3 separate regions of the Homo sapiens genome follow, and regions 1 and 2 are each linked to region 3. Evidence: fine-mapped expression QTL. A gene starts in region 3. Each other region holds a variant in brackets. All regions are shown on one strand. Distances are between the middles of the regions.

Region 1 (5,682 bases), 160 kb before region 3:
AAGAACTTTCTTCTTTTTTATCTTTTTATTTAAAACACTGAAAACATTTTATTATGGAAATTCCTAAATACAGGTAGTTCTGCTGTAACAGAATAAATATGATCTTAAAAAGCACTATGCTGGCTGGGAGTGGTGGCTTACGCCTGTAATCCCATTTTGGGAGGCCGAGGCAGGTGGATCACCTGAGGTCAAGAGTTCAAGACCAGCCTGGCCAACATGGTGAAACCCTGCCTCTACTAAAAATACAAACATTAGCCAGGTGTGGTAGGTGTGGTGGTGTGCACCTGTGGTCCCAGCTACTCAGGAGGCTGAGGCAGGGGAATCGCTTGAACCCAAAAGGCAGAGGTTGCAGTGAGCCAAGATCGTGCCACTGCACTCCAGCCTGGGCGACAAGAGCAAAACTCCATCTCAAAAAACAAAACAAAACAAAACAAAAAAGCACCATGCCATGTAAAATCATGCAACAAAAAATGCAAGATTTAGGAAAAATGGGTTAGGGAAACAACACTCAAAAACTTGGTTAGTAACACATCTACAAAAAGATAGGAGTTTATTCAAAATGTTAGCACATTAAGAGAATGAAAAGAAAAGCCACAGACTGAAAGAGAAGATTTACAAAACATGTATGATAAAGACCTGGTATCAAAAATACACGACTCTTAAAACTCGATTATGGCCGGGCACAGTGGCTCATGCCTGTAATCCCAGCACTTTGGGAGGCCAAGGCGGGCGGATCACAAGGTCAGGAGATCGAGACCATCCTGGCTAACATGGTAAAACCCCGTCTCTACTAAAAATACAAAAAAAATTAGCCAGGCGTGGTGGCGGGCGCCTGTAGTCCCAGCTAGTTGGAAGGCTGAGTCAGGAGAATGGGCGTGAACCCAGGAGAATTGCAGTGAGCCAAGATCGCGCCACTGCACTCCAGCCAGGGCAACAGAGCGAGACTCCGTCTCAAAAAAAAAAAAAAAAGAAAAAACAAAAAAACCCTCAATTATAAGAAAACAACTCAATTAAAAAATGAGCCAAAGGTCTGAACAAACATCTCACCAAAGAAGATATACAGGTATGTCATTAGGGAATTGGAAGTTAAAATAATAAAGAGCCACCACTACACATCTATTAGAATGGTTACATCCAAAACACAGACAACCCCAATTGCTGATGAGGATGTGGAACAACAGGAGCTCTCATCCATGGCTTGCGGGAATGCAAAATGGTGCAGCCACTTTGGAACACAGTTTGTCAGTTTCTTATGAAACTAAATCTAGTCTTACCATATGATCCAGCAATCACACTCCTTGGTATTTACCCAAACGAGTCGAAAACATGTTCACACAAAACGTGTACACAAATGTTTATAGCAGCTTTATTCATTACTGACAAACTTGAAAGCAACCAAGATGTCCTACAGTAGGTGAATGGATAAACAAACTGTGATACATATACACAACGACAAATTATTCAGCAAGAGAGAAAAAGGAGCTATGGAGCTATGAAGCCATAAAAGACACAGAGGAAACCCAAATGCATACTGGTAAGTGAAAGAAGCCCATCTGAAAACGCTGTGCACTGTGGGATTTCAACTACATGACATTACAGAAGAGGCAAAACCACGAAGAAGGGAAAAAATTATCAGTGGCCAAAGGTGCGGGGAGAATAGGTGGAGTGCAGGGGATCATTAGGGCACTGAAATTTCTCTGTATGGTACTGGATGGTAGACACCTGTCATTACACATTTGTCAAATCTCATAGGATATAAACACACAAAGTGAACCCTAACCAACACACCAGACTAACCAAGATGTTAATAACTGGTGACAGGGTGAGGGGTTTATAGGAACACTCTGTACTCTCTGCTTCATTTTTCTATAAACCTAAAACTGCTTGAAAAAATAAAGTCCATTCATGTTAACAATGATAGCACAATTTTACACATGCTAAAAGGTTAGGAAATATATAAATACTACAATAAGTATGGCACTATGTGAAAAAGACTTGTGATTTGCATGTAGAAGTGGGCATCAAGAGCTTATGAGTTAGTGGGAAGTGGTGAAAGAAGGGGTCTCTGAGGTCAGAGGCAAGCTGTGACTCCAGAAGTGGTGGTGTGGCTCATGACACACAGAGTGAATCCATGTATAGCTGGACACTATCCCAGGTGTGCGTCTGTGTGTTCCTACGAAGCTCTGCTCCTGGGGGAGGTGTGCGTCTGTGTGTTCCTATGCAGCTCCACTCTTGGGGCACATGGGGGGCAATATTCTGCATTAAG[T/G]GGGGGCAGTATTCTGCATTCACCTGGTGTTTCTAGTGGATGAAATTGCACATAAGCTAACATGAAATTTGCATTATACTCAAACGGTTCCCTAACACATCAATCATTTTGGAACAAATTTGAGTTTTCAAAACAAGCATTAAAGCAGAACAGGCCATATACGAAGGCAGAAAATACAGTCTATGCACTCATTACCAGCTTCAACCTTGCAGAATTAGGATTAGAACTGCTCAACATAGAAACTATCTTAACTTCACAAAGGTTATTGCCAAAATCCGCGGCGCACACTCTATGTAATGGAGAAAGTTAAGATGGGTTTGCTTCAAGACAGAAAACCAGAGAAGAATGCACGTGATGCCTGCTGCTGTTTACCAGGAAGCCAGAGATCTTGCTTATGCTGTAAGTGAAGCACAAGAAACAAAAGGCACTGGATTATAGGAGAAAAAGAAGTCACAATTTAGAAATGACCTAATCATCTACCAAGAAAAAAAATACATAACAAAAGCATCAAACTATGAGAACTAGTAAGAGAGTTCAGATAGATGCTTTAAAGTATTTTTTAAATTACACCAGCAATAACAACCTGCTAGAAGGTTGTATTCATAATAGCAAAACGAGCTGAACAATAAAAGCCTTGTGGGGAAAGGGAAGCTGGATCCCCATCAACACACACAAAAGGGGGCTCCACTTGACCTAAAGCCTTGTACATGAATAGAAATGTATAAAATTAAAAGTTCATAATATAAGATAAATAAGGGCAGTGACTTCTTTAGTAATAGCACAAGGCAGAAGCCATAAACCAGCAATAGTGATTGCTCGATTTTTATGCAGTAAAAGATAAGATGGCAGTTAGCTGACAGACTGTGAGAATATATTTGCAATATTTATATCCAACAAAGAATAATATATTCAAAATATAAAAGGAGCTCTTGCAAATCAACAAGAAAAAGACAGAAACCCAAACAGAAAGATTGTAATTGGAGAAATGCAAATTAAAATGATGACTTGTCACTTTACATCCAATAGACTTGAAGAAAATTACAAAGTTGGAAGATTCTGGGTTTTGGTGGTGGTATGGGGGATGCAGGACGTCTCATGCTGTTGGTGGAGAGTATACTGGTGCGCACACTCTGAAAAAGTCACTGGGTAGCATTTAATTAAAACAAATGCAGGTATTCTCTAAGGCCCAGCAGTCTCTTCCTGGATAGGCATCCACCAAAATTCTGACACAGTTTACAATGGGACATTTACAACACTAGATTTTTTGTGATACTGATTGTGCCAGTAGACAGTTGAAGGCAATCCAGGTATTTATCACTGGAATAATTGATAAAATGTGGGAGATGCACATCATGGACTACAGAGAGAATCAAAGGACTGAAAATATACACAGCAACAGAGGTCTTAAAAATATAACGATAAGTGACTTCTGCTTTTGGTAATGGCAGTCTATAATTCAAAAAATTCACTAGTGGAGAACAGTTAGAAAAACTAGACAAAATATAAAACACATGCACTTCAAGACACGAGACGGCTACTAAAATGCGAAGAACAGCCAGGTTAGGACACAGAGGGAACGGGCACAGGCAGGTAAGCCGAGTGTGCAGGGCTGCCTTGCCTGGGGAGCCAGGGTGCCCATTCCTGATGAAACAGAAGTATGGTTGAAAGGCTGAATAGGCTGGGCGTGGTGGCTCATGCCTGTAATCCCAGCACTTTGGGAGGCCGAGGCAGGTGGATCATGAGGTCAGGGGTTCGAGACCAGCCTAACCAACATGGTGAAACCCCGTCTCTACTAAAAATACAAAAATTAGCTGGGCATGGTGGCGGGCGCCTGTAATCCCAGCTACTCAGGAGGCTGAGGCAGGAGAATTGCTTGAACCTGGGAGGCGGAGGTTGCAGTAAGCCGAGATCGCGCCACTGCACTCCAGCCTGGGCGAACACAGCAAGACTCTGTCTCAAAAAAAAAAAAAAAAAAGGTGAATAATACTTTTAATAACTTCAAGGGGCTGGGGTGAGAGCAACTGGATGCAAGAGTGCCCCAAGGGGTGACAGTGGAGATCTCACTTTGTGGTGGGACTACGCATGGCTGTAAGCTAGAAGCATGGGCGAGTTCTACATGGAGAGGCCCCTGCAGGACGTGGCTCAGCTCTAAATAATTAGAAATTGGACCGAAGTAACCTTAATTGCTAGTTCTCAGAGTTCCTTGGCAGAAGCAAATATAAATCCTCTCTGGAGAAAGATAATATCATCATAAGCCAAAAATTATTGTCATAAAGTATTCTGCAGATACTTTATTCATAACCAAATAAAATATAACCAGGCACATGTGGAGGAGAGGCAACATGCACAACAGGAGGTAACTTCAATAGCTGCAGATCCACAAGAGGTCCAGATGATGGCGTCGCTAAACACAAACGTTAGCACTAATATACTCGCGGGCTCACGGAGGTAGAAGGCAAGGTTGACTATCTCAATGGAGAAGTAAAAACTCCAGGAAAGAAACAAACGGAAGCTCTTGAGTCAAAGTATTCAATAACTGGAAACAAACTCAATGAATATGTTTAACAACATATTAGGTACAGCTGAATAAAGAAGAGAGGTCAGACAGAAAGATTCAGAGAAAAACAGACAGAGACAAAAGGACAGCAAGCACAGAGGAGAAGGCGAGAGATGCTGCACATTCATTCACAGGGAAGTTTCCATGTAATTACAGTCCCAAAAGATGAGACAGAGGGAATGCTGGAAGCAATGTTTGAAAAGAATGGCTGAGAATTTTCCAAAATAAGTGACAGACATCAAGCCATGAATCCAAGAATCCCTATGGACTGTAAGCTGAGTAAAATTTCAAATAACCACATCTGGGCACATCTTTAAGACTGCTGAAACACCAGACACAGATAAAATGCTGTGTGGAGTCCGAGGAGGAGTCAGGCTGACTCTGAAGTGCAGAAGTTAGAACAGCTGATGTTTCAACAGAAGCAATGGAAATCAGAACACAATGTAATGGCATCTATAAAGAGTCCACTTCTATACACAAAATGCAAGGAATTAAGATTTAAAAAGGCATTTTCAGATAAGAAGAAAACAAAAACAAACACTGAAAGAATCCATCTCCAGAAGGAAAACACTCCAGAAAGAATCAATCTCCTTAAGGAAAACACTAGGTTTCTTTATCCTGGCAGAAAAGAGAAGGATCCCCGACAGGAAGGTGGAGATTCAGGAAGCAATGAAGAGCGATGAAGATGCAAGTATATGGGAAAACATAAATGAACATGAACTTTACAAAACAACGTCTTATTGGACCAAAAAATATATGGTGAAAAAAATGTAGAGAATTAAATCTATGAAAACAATGGCCTATAAGTCAGGAAGGGGTAAATGCATGGTCTGGGAAGATGTTAAAAGTCCTGATTTAT
Region 2 (5,682 bases), 22 kb after region 3:
TTTGTGTTTGAGATTCATTCAGGTGGATGATTATAGCTCTAGCTCACTTAATTTTTGCTATCCTATAACATTTTATTTCAGTGACATATCATACTTGGTTTATCTTTCCTCCCACTGATAGAAATTTACACTGTTTCTAACTGTTTGGTCCACAAACATTGCTTATTTGTTATTTCCTTCTATGTGAGATTTAGTCTGGAAAAAGATCTATTAGTGAAATTACTAATCATGTTTATGTATGTTTTAAAATTTACTGTTGTTACCAAATTGCTCATCTAAGTGATGGTGACCAATTCCAGTCCCAGGAGTGGCAAATGAGAGGCCCTGTTGCTCCACAATTGCTGTAGACCTCAGTTCAAATGGAATGCTTTTTAATATTTGCCCTGCAGACAGATGCTACGTGGCATTCTGTTAAATTTGCATTTGCAGGGTTACTAGTGGGTTAATCATGTTTACTGTGTTTCTTAGCCAGTCTAGTTTCATTTTTGCACAATGTTCTAGTGGAGTGTTTGTTTTCCTGATTAATTTATAGCCATTATATATTATGGATAACTTCACTGCCAGTTTTTTGTATTGCAAATATGTACTCGCAGTTTGCAGCTTGTTTTCTCTTTCTTCTTGACTCAATTTTGGTAATTTTAATATTTCTAAACAATGATCCATGTCATCTACCTTTATAAAATTGTTGCTGCTAGGCCAGGCATGGTGGCTCACACCTGTAACCCCAGCACTTTGGGAGGCCGAGGCGGGCGGATCACGAGGTCAGGAGATTGAGACCATCTTGGCTAACACAGTGAAACCCCGTCTTTACTAAAAACACAAAAAAATTAGCCAGGCGTGGTGGCGGGCGCCTGCAGTCCTAGCTACTTGAGAGGCTGAGGCAGGAGAATGGAGTGAACCTGGGAGGCGGAGCTTGCAGTGAGCTGAGATAGCACCACTGCACTCCAGCCTGGGCAACAGAGCAAGACTCCATCTCAAAAAAAAAAAAAATTGTTGCTGCTAATGTTAATCATAGTATTCTCTCGTTCTCCCATGAGTTTTTGATTACACATTTCTTTTATCTTTTTTTTTTTTTTTTTTTTTGGTGTGATCACAGCTCACTGCAGCCTCGACTTCCTGGACTCAAGTGATCCTCCCACCTCAGCCTCCTGAGTAGTTGAGACTACATGTGTGGGCCACCATATCTGGCTAATTTTTTTTTTTTTTCAGAGATGGGGTTTCGCCATGTTGCCGAGGCTGGTGAGGAACTCCTCCTGGGCTCAAGAGATCCAGCTGCCTCGACCTCCCAAAGTGCTGGGACTACAGACATGCACCACCACACCTGGCCTTTTATCCTCTTTTTAGCAAATGCATTTAGGGTTTGTATTTACCTGTAAGAACAGGTTTACCTGAATTTCGCATAGTTTGATAGGTCATCCTTGCATTGTTCTCAGTTCTTAAAATTTCAAAATTTCCATTTTGAAATGTTTCCTCCTTATCTTTGGATTTTTAGCATCTTTAAAAATCTCTACACAGGTTTTTTGACTGATGTTTTATTGTTGAGTTCATACTTATCCTACTGCCATTGGAGGATCTGGCCTGTATGACTCCAATTCTTAGGAATATGTTAAGCTTTCTTTTGTCTCTTTCCCTGAGCCCACTGCCCCTGGCCAGCTCTCTGCCAGGGCAGCTGGACACTATGGGGTGCTTGGATCCCCCCACACCAGCCTAGAAGCTCCTCTGGACAGAGGTGGATCCAAGCGCTTGCCTCCCCAGCATCTGAGCCCACGTCGGCCTGGACAAGACTTCAGGCCTGCCTTCTCAGTCTGCCAGTGAAAAGAGCCATCCTTGGGACACACAGCTCTAAGTGTCTGGACCCCAAATCTTTCTCCTCCTCTGCAAAGGGACCTTCTTTGAGATTCTGGGGACTGAACTTGACCAGAACATTTGGGGTCACTCACAAGCATGCTTGGCTGCTGAGCTCTGTTCCCCCAAGGTTTACTGCCCCCATCCCCATGGCCTCAGACCCCAGCCCTCACCACCTCCCACACAGCAGGCTCAGCCCATCTCCACACACCAGGCCCTGGGCATAGGCTCCCCAGCCCGCTGGACACCACCCAACTCAGGTGCGGAGCTTCCTCCTGCCTCCCCGGCCCCAGGGAGTGCCGCTTCCTGACTCCAGAGTGCTGTTCGTTCCTGTGCTGTTCATACCATGACGATCATCCGTAAGAGCAACTCTGCAACAGGTGCTCCCGTGTCCCCCCTCCTCTACTGCTCAAAACACACCCAGGGACAGAGGAAGACTCCAGGCTGCAACATCGAGACCTAAGGGCCAGTCCAGAAGTCACCAGGCCGTTGACTCCAAGGCCCGCTTCACATCTGGTCTCACTCCCTTCTCTGTGAAGCACGGACCGGGAGGGACACCTCCTAGGACCTGCTGCAGGTGACAGAACAGCACAGGGACAACACCTGGGCACTCAGCTGTCAGCAGAGACTGGAGGTGCTTGGACCTAGGTTTCCTGACCGCGAGCTGCAGGCCTTTCCAGAACATCTCCCACATGCTCTCTTGCCCCAAGCACTGTGACATATACCCTGTGTCCTCAAATCAGACATTCACTCAGCAGGCACAGGGACTGGCATGCTGCAGGCAGGGCTGTTCTCTCCCAGAATCACGTTCTAGGCTTACAAACAAAAACCGGGACTTCCGATTCCAGCAATATGGCAGGTCTACTTAATTGGAAACATTTTCCACCACAGAGCACATAGAAATGCTGGATTAGGCTGGGCGCGGTGGCTCACGCCTGTAATCCCAGCACTTTGGGAGGCCAAGG[C/A]CGGCGGATCACCTGAGGTCAGGAGTTTGAGACCAGCCTGACCAACTGTCTCTACTAAAAATACAAAATTAGCCAGGCATGGTGGCGCATGCCTGTAATCCCAGTTACTCTGGAGGCTGAGGCAGGAGAATGGCTTGAACCCGGAAGGCCGAGGTTGCTATAAGCCGAGGTCACACCATTGCACTCCAGCCTGGGCAACAAGAGCGAAACTCTGTCAAAAAAAAAAAAAAAAAAAAGGAAAGAAATGCTGGATTAAATTCACAAACATGCTTTCAAATGCACTCCTGGAAGCGCAAGGCCATAAGGAACACCGTCCAAGAGGCCAGAAACAAAGAGCAACAAAAAACAAGTGAGCCAAACATAGGAGTGAGCACTGGGGCTGCCCTGGGCCCCGCAGGCCAGGTGGGACCAGCCCCTCTGTCCAGGGGCCAGGCCCAGCAAAGCAGGATGTGCTCAGGAGTGCACAGTGCAGGGAGCTCAGCCTCGGCAATCACCTCTGTGCCAAACACAGAGAAATGCTTCACAAAATATTAAAAGGACAAAATCAGAAAATCATGGCCAGCCTCAAAAGTTAGGAAAATGTCTCTGAGATCAGCAAAGAAGCAGGACTGGAATCTAGTGAGCTGGGCTAACATCTCAGCCTTACTGGAGGCCCAGGCAGAAGGTGGCACTTTGATTCCTGCAGGGTTTGGGGTATGAAAGGTGAGACTGCAGCCAGGCTCACTGTGGGAGAAAGAGTGGAGGGAAGGGTGATCCACTGAAGGATACACAAACTGATCTGCAAACTTGTTTGCTGAGTGACATTTGGCTGACCACACCCACAGTGGGCCTGCCGGATCAGCGCTCCTGGGAAAGACACTGGCCTCCAGAAACAGTCATGTGAGCCTCGCTGACCCGTGCATTTCAGGGTGTCACTCACAGCTCTAGCAGATGTCCGACTCTAGCCCTCAAGCTTCAGGATTGAAGATGCCCCAACCTCTTCCCTGGCATGATCCTGAGCTAGAAACATAACATCAAAAACATGCTACAAGTGCAGCGAAACATGGCAGAGCCTGATGTGCAGTCCTCTTGTCCACTAAGGTCATGACGTAGGGTGCCAGGCTCTCCCCTAATGTGATCAGAGTCGGGGGTCTTAGCATGGTGTATGGCCAGATGACTGAGCTCTGGTCCAGCCTTCCAGGGAGATCAGCCTTCAGGGAACCAGTCTTGGAGAAGTTAATGCTTCCCTTTTTTTTTTTTTTTTTGAGCTGGGGTCTCGCTCTATCACCCAGGCTGGAGTGCGGCGGTGCGATCTCCGCTCACTGCAAACTCTGCCTCCCAGGTTCATGCCATTCTCCTGCCTCAGCCTCCTGAGTAGCTGGGACTACAGGCGCCCGCCACAACGCCCGGCTAATTTTTTTTTTTTGTATTTTTAGTAGAGATGGGGTTTTATGGTGTTAGCCAGGATGGTCTCGATCTTCTGACCTCGTGATCCGCCCGCCTCGGCCTCCTGAAGTGCTGGGATTACAGGCGTGAGCCACTGTGCCCGGCCAATGCTTCCCTTTTACCAAGAAATAAGCAGTGGGACACAGTGGCTCATGCCTGCAATCCCAGCATTTTGGGAGGCCAGAGTGGGAGGATCGCTTCAGCCCAGGCATTTGAGACCAGCCTGGGTGACATAGCAACACCCCGTGTCTACTAAAAATAATTTAAAAAAAGACCGGGCCTGTAATCTCACACCACTGCACTCCAGCCTGGGTGACAGAGTGAGACCCTGTCTCCTTAAAAAAAAAAAAAAAAGAAAGAGAGAAAAGAAAAGCCTGGGTACAGCTACAACAAAAAAATAAAACTTCAGGCCAATTACTCTCTGATGAACACTGATGCAAAAATCCTCAATAAAATACTGGCAAACCAAATCCAGCGGCACAGCAAAAAGCTTACCCAGCTGGGTGTGGTGGCTCATGCCTATAATCTGAGGACTTTGGGAGGCTGAGGCAGGTGGATCACCTGAAGTCAGGAGTTCGAGACCAACCTGGCCAACATGGTGAAACCTGTCTCTACTAAAAATACAAAAATTAGCTGGGAGTGGTGGCACATGCCTGTAATCACTGCTACTTGCTACTCGGGAGGCTGAGGCAGGAGAATCACTTGAGCCTGGCAGGCAGAATTTGTTTGCAGTGAGCCGAGATGGCGCCATTGCACTCCAGCCTGGGTGACAGAATAAGACTCCGTTCAAAAAAAAAAGCTTATCAGTGATAGACTGGATTAAGAAAATGTGGCACATATACACCATGGAATACTATGCAGCCATAAAAAAGGATGAGTTCAGGTCCTTTGCAGGGACCTGGATGAAGCTAGAAACCATCATTCTAAGCAAACTATCTCAAGGACAGAAAACCAAACACCGCATGTTCTCACTCATAGGTGGGAAGTGAACAATGAGAACACTGGGACACAGGGCGGGGGACATCACACACCAGGGCCTGTTGGGGCCTGGGGGGCTGGGGGACGGATAGCATTAGGAGAAATACCTAATGTAAATGATGAGTTGATGGGTGCAGCAAACCAACATGGCACATGTATACATATGTAACAAACCTGCACATTGTGCACATGTATCCCAGAAATTAAAGTATAATAACAAAACAAAACAAACAAGCAAAAAAAAGCTTATCCACCATGATCAAATCGGCTTCATCCCCAGGATGTAAGGCTGGTTCAACATATGCAAATCAATAAATGTAATTCAGCACGTAAACAGAACTAAAGACAAAACCCACATGATTATCTCAATAGACACAGAAAAGGCCTTTGATAAAATTCAACATCCCTTCATGTTAAAAATTCTCAATAAACTAGGTATTGAAAGAACATACCTCAAAATAATGAGAGC
Region 3 (5,682 bases):
CTGGCAGGTGCAGGCTCTCCGACTGGTCTGCCTGCACGGGGAGGGACTCTGCCACACGACTGTCATGCCCCATGGATCCCACGGTGCCCAACGTGCCCAAGCAGATCTGTGTGCTGTACAGAGTCTGTACCAAGTGCCACCAGAAGGCACACCTGGGGCCTTGGGGTCCTCCTCCTGGGCTTGGTGGAGACTAGCTGCATCTTGGCTAACAGAGTCTGACTGGGAGACCCAGACAATCTGAGGTTCCCAGAATGAAGTGGCCTTTTCTGGCCCAGTCCAGCACCCATCATCAGGGGTACCTCATAGGACCAATCCCTGGGGACACCAGGAGGCACCAGGCGGTGACTGAAGCACGTAGCTCCTCTGCCCACCCCACAACCTGTGTCCTCACGGGGTATTCCTTACGACCAGTGTCTGAGAGGAACAAGTATGAACTACGTTGTCGGTGGCTCGGCAAGACACACTCACACAGCCAGAAGTGGACTGCTGTGGCAGTCAGAGCCCCTCCCATGTGGACAGCAGAAAGGAGACCCTCTGAGGGGCACAGGTGATGCTTCCTGTGGTGTGCATGGGGAGGCCTCAGGTGTCTCAGGACCTACAGGGACCTGAGGCAGAAAGTATGGAAAGGCCTCTCTGAATAGATGGGGAACTGGAGGACCGTGTGTGTCAGGAATACTTTCACAAAGGCCAAATCCCAGGAGCCTCCCAGGCAGCAGCAGGCAAGGTGGCTGCCCAGAGATGTCCAGTGGTCTCTCCTCCAGCCACACTCCACCTGCTCCTGGAGCTTCTGGGGCCAGCTGGGTGACTCAGATTCTGCCCAGGCATCTTGGATTCTGTCCGGCCATCTTCCCCTCACCTGGGCAACTCCTTGCCACCCTTGCTGTGGGTGCAGCAGAACCAAGGTCCAGGGCTCACCACTTCATAAACACACTCACGTTTCTTTCCTTCCTTCCCTCCCTCCTTCCTTCCTTCCTTTCCTTCCTTCCTTCCTTCTTTTCTTTTTCTTTTTTTTGAGACGGAGTCTCGCTCTATCACCCATGCTGGAGTGCAGTGGTGCTATCTTGGCTCACTGCAACCTCTGTCTCCCGGGTTCAAGCAATTCTCCTGCCTCAGACTCCCAAGTAGCTGGGATTACAGGCGCCCACTACCGCGCCCGGCTGATTTTTGTATTTTTAGTAGAGACGGGGTTTTGACATGTTGGCCAGGCTGGTCTCGAACTCGTGACCTCAGGCGATCCGCCCCCCCCACTCGGCCTCCCAAAGTGCTGAGATTACAGGCATGAGCCACCGCGCCGGGCCACACTCACATTTTCTAATAAGACCTTCACACTAACCCTGAAAGGTGTGGAGGGCATGGAAACATCACCCACATTTTTCAAAACAAAGACCCAGGTGGTTATGTGATTGTCCCAAGATTGTACACCTCCTCAATGACAGAGTCGGCATTTGAAGGGGGTCTGAGCTCTTCCAAGCCATCTCCTACACTCACCAGCACAGGTTCCTGAAAGGCTGCCTTCCCGGCTGTCCGGCCCTCTCCACTCTTGATGCCAGCGATCACTTCGTTATCGCTGGGGGTGGGAGCTGATGCCAGGCCAGCGGATAGGCTGAGGGCAGGGCTCCTGCAGGTCTGCCCTGGGTCACCTGGCTTCCTGCCCCTTTCACTAGAGCTCTCAGGGCCACAGAACTCCGACCTCAACCTCCCGTCTTCAACTCCGGGAGAAGATGGCTGCACAGCCAAGTAGGGCGCCCTCCCGCCCTCCCGCCCCGACAGCCCCACACAGGTCTGCCTCCCCCTGGACCTGCAGCTGACAGCTGGTGGCTCTTCCCCGCCTCTCCTTTCATGCAGTTGCTCCCGGAGTAGGAGCCCATCGGAGCTCAGCACCACCCAGCGTCGCAACCGCCCTCCCGCTGGCTCACCTGGGGAGGTCGGGCTTGGCAACCTGTGGCCGGCCACCCCTGACAGTGCCCCGGAGCCCCCGGCCCATCTTGGGGTTCCTGTGGGGGCAGCGAGGTGGAGGCGTCCCAACTGAGTGGGTCCCGGATGGTGAGCGGGCCCGGAAATCGGGCCAGAGAGGGGGCACCCCGAGCAGGAGCCCAACAGCCCCGACCCCAGTTCCAGCCCCTTGCCGCTGCTGCGCCCTCGCGTACTCTCAGCCTGGGGAATAACAACAGCAACCACTTCTCCCGTACCCACCGGGCCGGCACCAGCCCTCCTTCCCAAAACAGCTGGTACTGCGCCAAGCGGCAGAGGCTCCGAGTGCCCTGCGCGCCCAGGCCGGTCCAGGCAGCGGCTCCGAGTGCCCCGCGCGCCCAGGACGGTCCAGGTGCGGGGAGGCCGGCTCAGGCGCTCGCCCTTGCCCTCTCAGGGGCTCGCCCCGGGCCGCCGTCCCTACCGCCCCCAACGGAGCCCCGTCCTTCCCCGCGCTCGAGACGGCCCCACTTTGCAGGACGCCGCCTCCGGTCTGCACGTCGGAAAGTTGGGAGCGGCGGGGAGCCACGAGGGTGTCCCCACCCACCGGGTGCCCAGGGGACGGCCCGGGGCGCAGCAGCCAGCGCGGGCTGTGCTCCTCCCCACCCGCGCAGGGCGCCGGGAGCCCGACCGCAAGTCCCGGACGCCGGCTCTCACCTTGAAGAAGCTCCGGAGGAAGTGCACGACGCTGAGCATGGTGGCCGCCGGGACGCCCGGAGCCCGGCCGCAGCACTACGAGCCGCGCCGCCGAGCCGGCTCCACCGACGCCACCCCGCGCCCCGCCCTAGGGTCCGCCCCCGCGCCCTCGCCCGGACGCTCCGCCCCCGCAAACCTGGCCACTGGAGGCACGTGAGGTCCAGGCTCCTGCCCTGCCCGCCCCTGGGCTTTGGTCACCCGCGGGACTGGGCACGCACAGGCACACAGCAGAGCCGTCCACAGACCCGGCCCAGGGGCCGCCGGGATCATCCCGCCCAGTCGAGCTCTTGGGCCCCCTTGAAGCCTAGGAGTGTTTTCTCAGAGAGAAAGCAGCACGCTTCTTGCGCATTTGCACATCTCCAACGCAGCGCTTCGGCCTGTCCTCCGCACTGGAGACTCAGGTGCCTCCGCCCTCCTGAGAGCAGGGGCGGCCTCTCTGCTGAGAGTTCTGATTGTCAAGCTCCCAGAACTTTCAGAGTTCAGTCCGCCCAGCGTTCTTGTTTACCAGTTGAGGAAACGGAGGCCCAGGGAGGCTGTGCAGCGCGCCGGCACTCACACACCTGGTGGGGACAAATGTGGACTAGGATATCTGGGACCGAAGTCTTGGCCTCCAGCTCCCTCTTGCCTCCCACTTACCTTTCCAGGTATGTCCTGCAGATAGGATGTAAGTGAATGGTCACACCCGTAACCATTAAGGAGCGCAGCTTTCTGCTAAGGGGCAAAGGGAAGTCCTCGCTGCTTTCTTTGCAGGGGTTTAAGGAGACAGGGCCTGCCAGGAAACACTCTAACCAGCCCTAGGACCGCACTATTTTAAATCAGAAGAAAAAAACTGAGTATAATAAAATAATAATGAATCTAGCCTGGAGTATATTCATCTTTATATGAATGCAGTTGTAAACTCTAATTTTAACTATTTTATTTTATGCAGGAAGAGGCCCACGAAAGCTAAGACCCCAAGGCCCATGTGCACCATACTGCAGCCCTGCTCTGTCCACCATTTCTGAGATCGGCGCCCCACAGAGGGAGAGCATCTGCCCAGACTGGCTTTTTGCACCCCTGCTCAAGCCTGCACCCTCGTCCAAGTCCTAGCCCCACTGAACGCTATGCCTGGTCAGCAGTGCGTGTCAGGGGTGCCTGGCAGAGTGTGCATTTTCCGTACACCCAACCTGTCTCTGCCTCTCCCCAGGCCCTCACAGCAACCAGGCCAGGCGAGAAGCTTGGGAGATAGATACTCAGAGGAGGCACTGTGGGGCCATCTGAAGATCCTGCGTCCCCTGTCACAGCCTTTATGTCACTCAGGGTCCATGACTGTGCTAGAAGCATGTCCCTGAGGCCCATGGTGGTGGGAGGAGGGTGTGGGATTCGGATCTGGGCACCTGGCTGTGCTGCACACCAGTTGTGTAATCATGATCATCTGCTCTAAACACGTATCTTTAACATTCGAGAGGAATGACCGCCTGGTGGGGTTGCCATGGAGAGTACGTGAGAAATTAAACCTCACAGGTGCTTAGCAAAAGTTAATTCGCTCTTCTCTGAAGGCTTAAAGTGCTAATCCCCTGGCGAGGGGGGAGGTCCAGTGAAAATACACAACCCCTGGCCACAGGTTCCATTGTTGTCTGGACTCCTCTGACCAGTGGACAGCCCTGGACCTGGGTTCTCAGACCTGAGTCAGAACCACGTGGAGGACACCATAGAGCTTAGGCTGCTGCCCCTCACCGCTGCCCCCCTCTCACAGGATCTGGGGTGGGGCCTGGGAATTTGCATTTTAACATGTTTCCAAGTGACCCTGAAGCTGCTGGCCCTGGGACCACACTTAGAGAACCCCTGGTTCAGGCTATGGGGCCTGGGCCAGGCTCGCCGTCTAGCAGAGGATCAGACCCCAGGTTGGAGCATAACCGTCATGATGGCTCCATTCATCAGGCACCTGCTGTGTCCCCGCACGCCCAGATCCCTGCCACAGCGCAGCCTCCCTAGAGAAGTGACATCCAATGCTCGAGGGGAAATAAATCAAAGGTAGTTTATGTCTGTCTTTTCCTTCTGGTGAACATGGTTTTAGGAGGACTTGACTGCACTGTGGTGTGCTCTCTCTTTTGCCGTTATTAAAAATAAGAAAGGCAGGCCTGTTTGAGTCGCTGAAGGATTTGTACAATAGAGTTTCTAGTCAGTGGAGCGTCCCATGTTTAAATATGACCCCGACTTCCTGTCTGTCACATATGGCAATTAAACAGGTTCAGCAGCATAGGGGAGTGAAGTGAGTGGTAGGACAGAAAACATCGCAGCAGATTCCAAGTGGCAGAGAGAGCGTGGGCACGGGGTGGACCGATGGAACTTACAGGGGCTTGTGCTTTCCTCGCTGGGCAGCCTGGGCCACTTGCTTTACTTCTCTGGCCCAGAGACCACAGGCTTACATATAGACAGACCTACACTACCAGCTGGGGCCTGAGTCACAAAAGACAGAAACTTCCCCTGGCTACTCTAGCAGGAAAGGGATTTTTGCAAGAATATGGAGTAAGGCATAGGCAGGGGGAGGTGTGCTGACCTGGGAAACAGGCAGCCAGCCGGCTACGGCAGCGGCAGCAGCCAGAGCTCACCAGACAGACTGCCCACTAGGGAGGCTGGGGCTGGTGCCTCTCCCTGCAGCTTTGCTCCTAGACTCTGGCCTCCTGTAATCTCTGCCGACGATCCCTGCGTCCCTGGTCCTTGACCAGCTCCAAAGATGTAAAGTCCAGGACCACCCACGTGTTGCTGTCTGACTGCTGGTGAGTCAGGGGAGCCGTTGTGAGGAGGGCATGAGCCTTCAGCTAGCCTGGTGGGAAGCCGGCCTGCTTGTACAGCTGTCATAGGTGGGGGACAGAAATCAGGGACACGTTGGAAACAGAATCTTTTTTTTTTTTTTTTTTGAGACGGAGTCTCCCTCTGTCACCCAGGCTGGAGTGCAGTGGCATGATCTTGGTTCACTGCAAGCTCCACCTCCCAGGTTCCTGCCATTCTCCTGCCTCAGCCTCCAGAGTAGCTGGG

Direction of the effects. Alleles are on the strand shown, and positions count from the first base shown. SD is a standard deviation of normalised expression in the study named. Not every link is listed here.
For the expression in esophagus muscle of the gene that starts at base 2,704 in region 3, allele A in region 2 goes with a higher level than allele C (small effect, 0.17 SD a copy in GTEx).

Evidence for each region. PIP is the estimated chance that this variant, and not a neighbour inherited with it, causes the effect. A credible set is the group of variants that fine-mapping cannot tell apart.
Region 1: its variant is the best candidate, but not a certain one, in a credible set for the expression of ARHGEF4 in whole blood (TOPMed, PIP 0.78).
Region 2: its variant is the best candidate, but not a certain one, in a credible set for the expression of ARHGEF4 in esophagus muscle (GTEx, PIP 0.69).

What each region holds. Positions count from the first base shown.
Region 1 is chr2:130,994,448-131,000,129 of GRCh38, reverse strand. All of the region lies in intron 4 of ARHGEF4 (Rho guanine nucleotide exchange factor 4), which reads right to left. Among named protein-coding and RNA genes, the nearest start is that of SMIM39, 38 kb to the left of the region's middle. The variant T/G (reference allele first, on the strand shown) is at 2,267.
Region 2 is chr2:130,811,885-130,817,566 of GRCh38, reverse strand. No RefSeq gene overlaps it. Among named protein-coding and RNA genes, the nearest start is that of ARHGEF4, 22 kb to the left of the region's middle. RefSeq lists an enhancer at 2,732-3,231. The variant C/A (reference allele first, on the strand shown) is at 2,811.
Region 3 is chr2:130,833,936-130,839,617 of GRCh38, reverse strand. It overlaps ARHGEF4 (Rho guanine nucleotide exchange factor 4), which reads right to left and starts at 2,704. Exons shown (of 14, transcript NM_001367493.1): 1 at 2,626-2,704. The coding sequence starts at 2,664. It overlaps ARHGEF4-AS1 (ARHGEF4 antisense RNA 1), which reads left to right and starts at 2,624. Exons shown (of 2, transcript NR_186036.1): 1 at 2,624-3,308.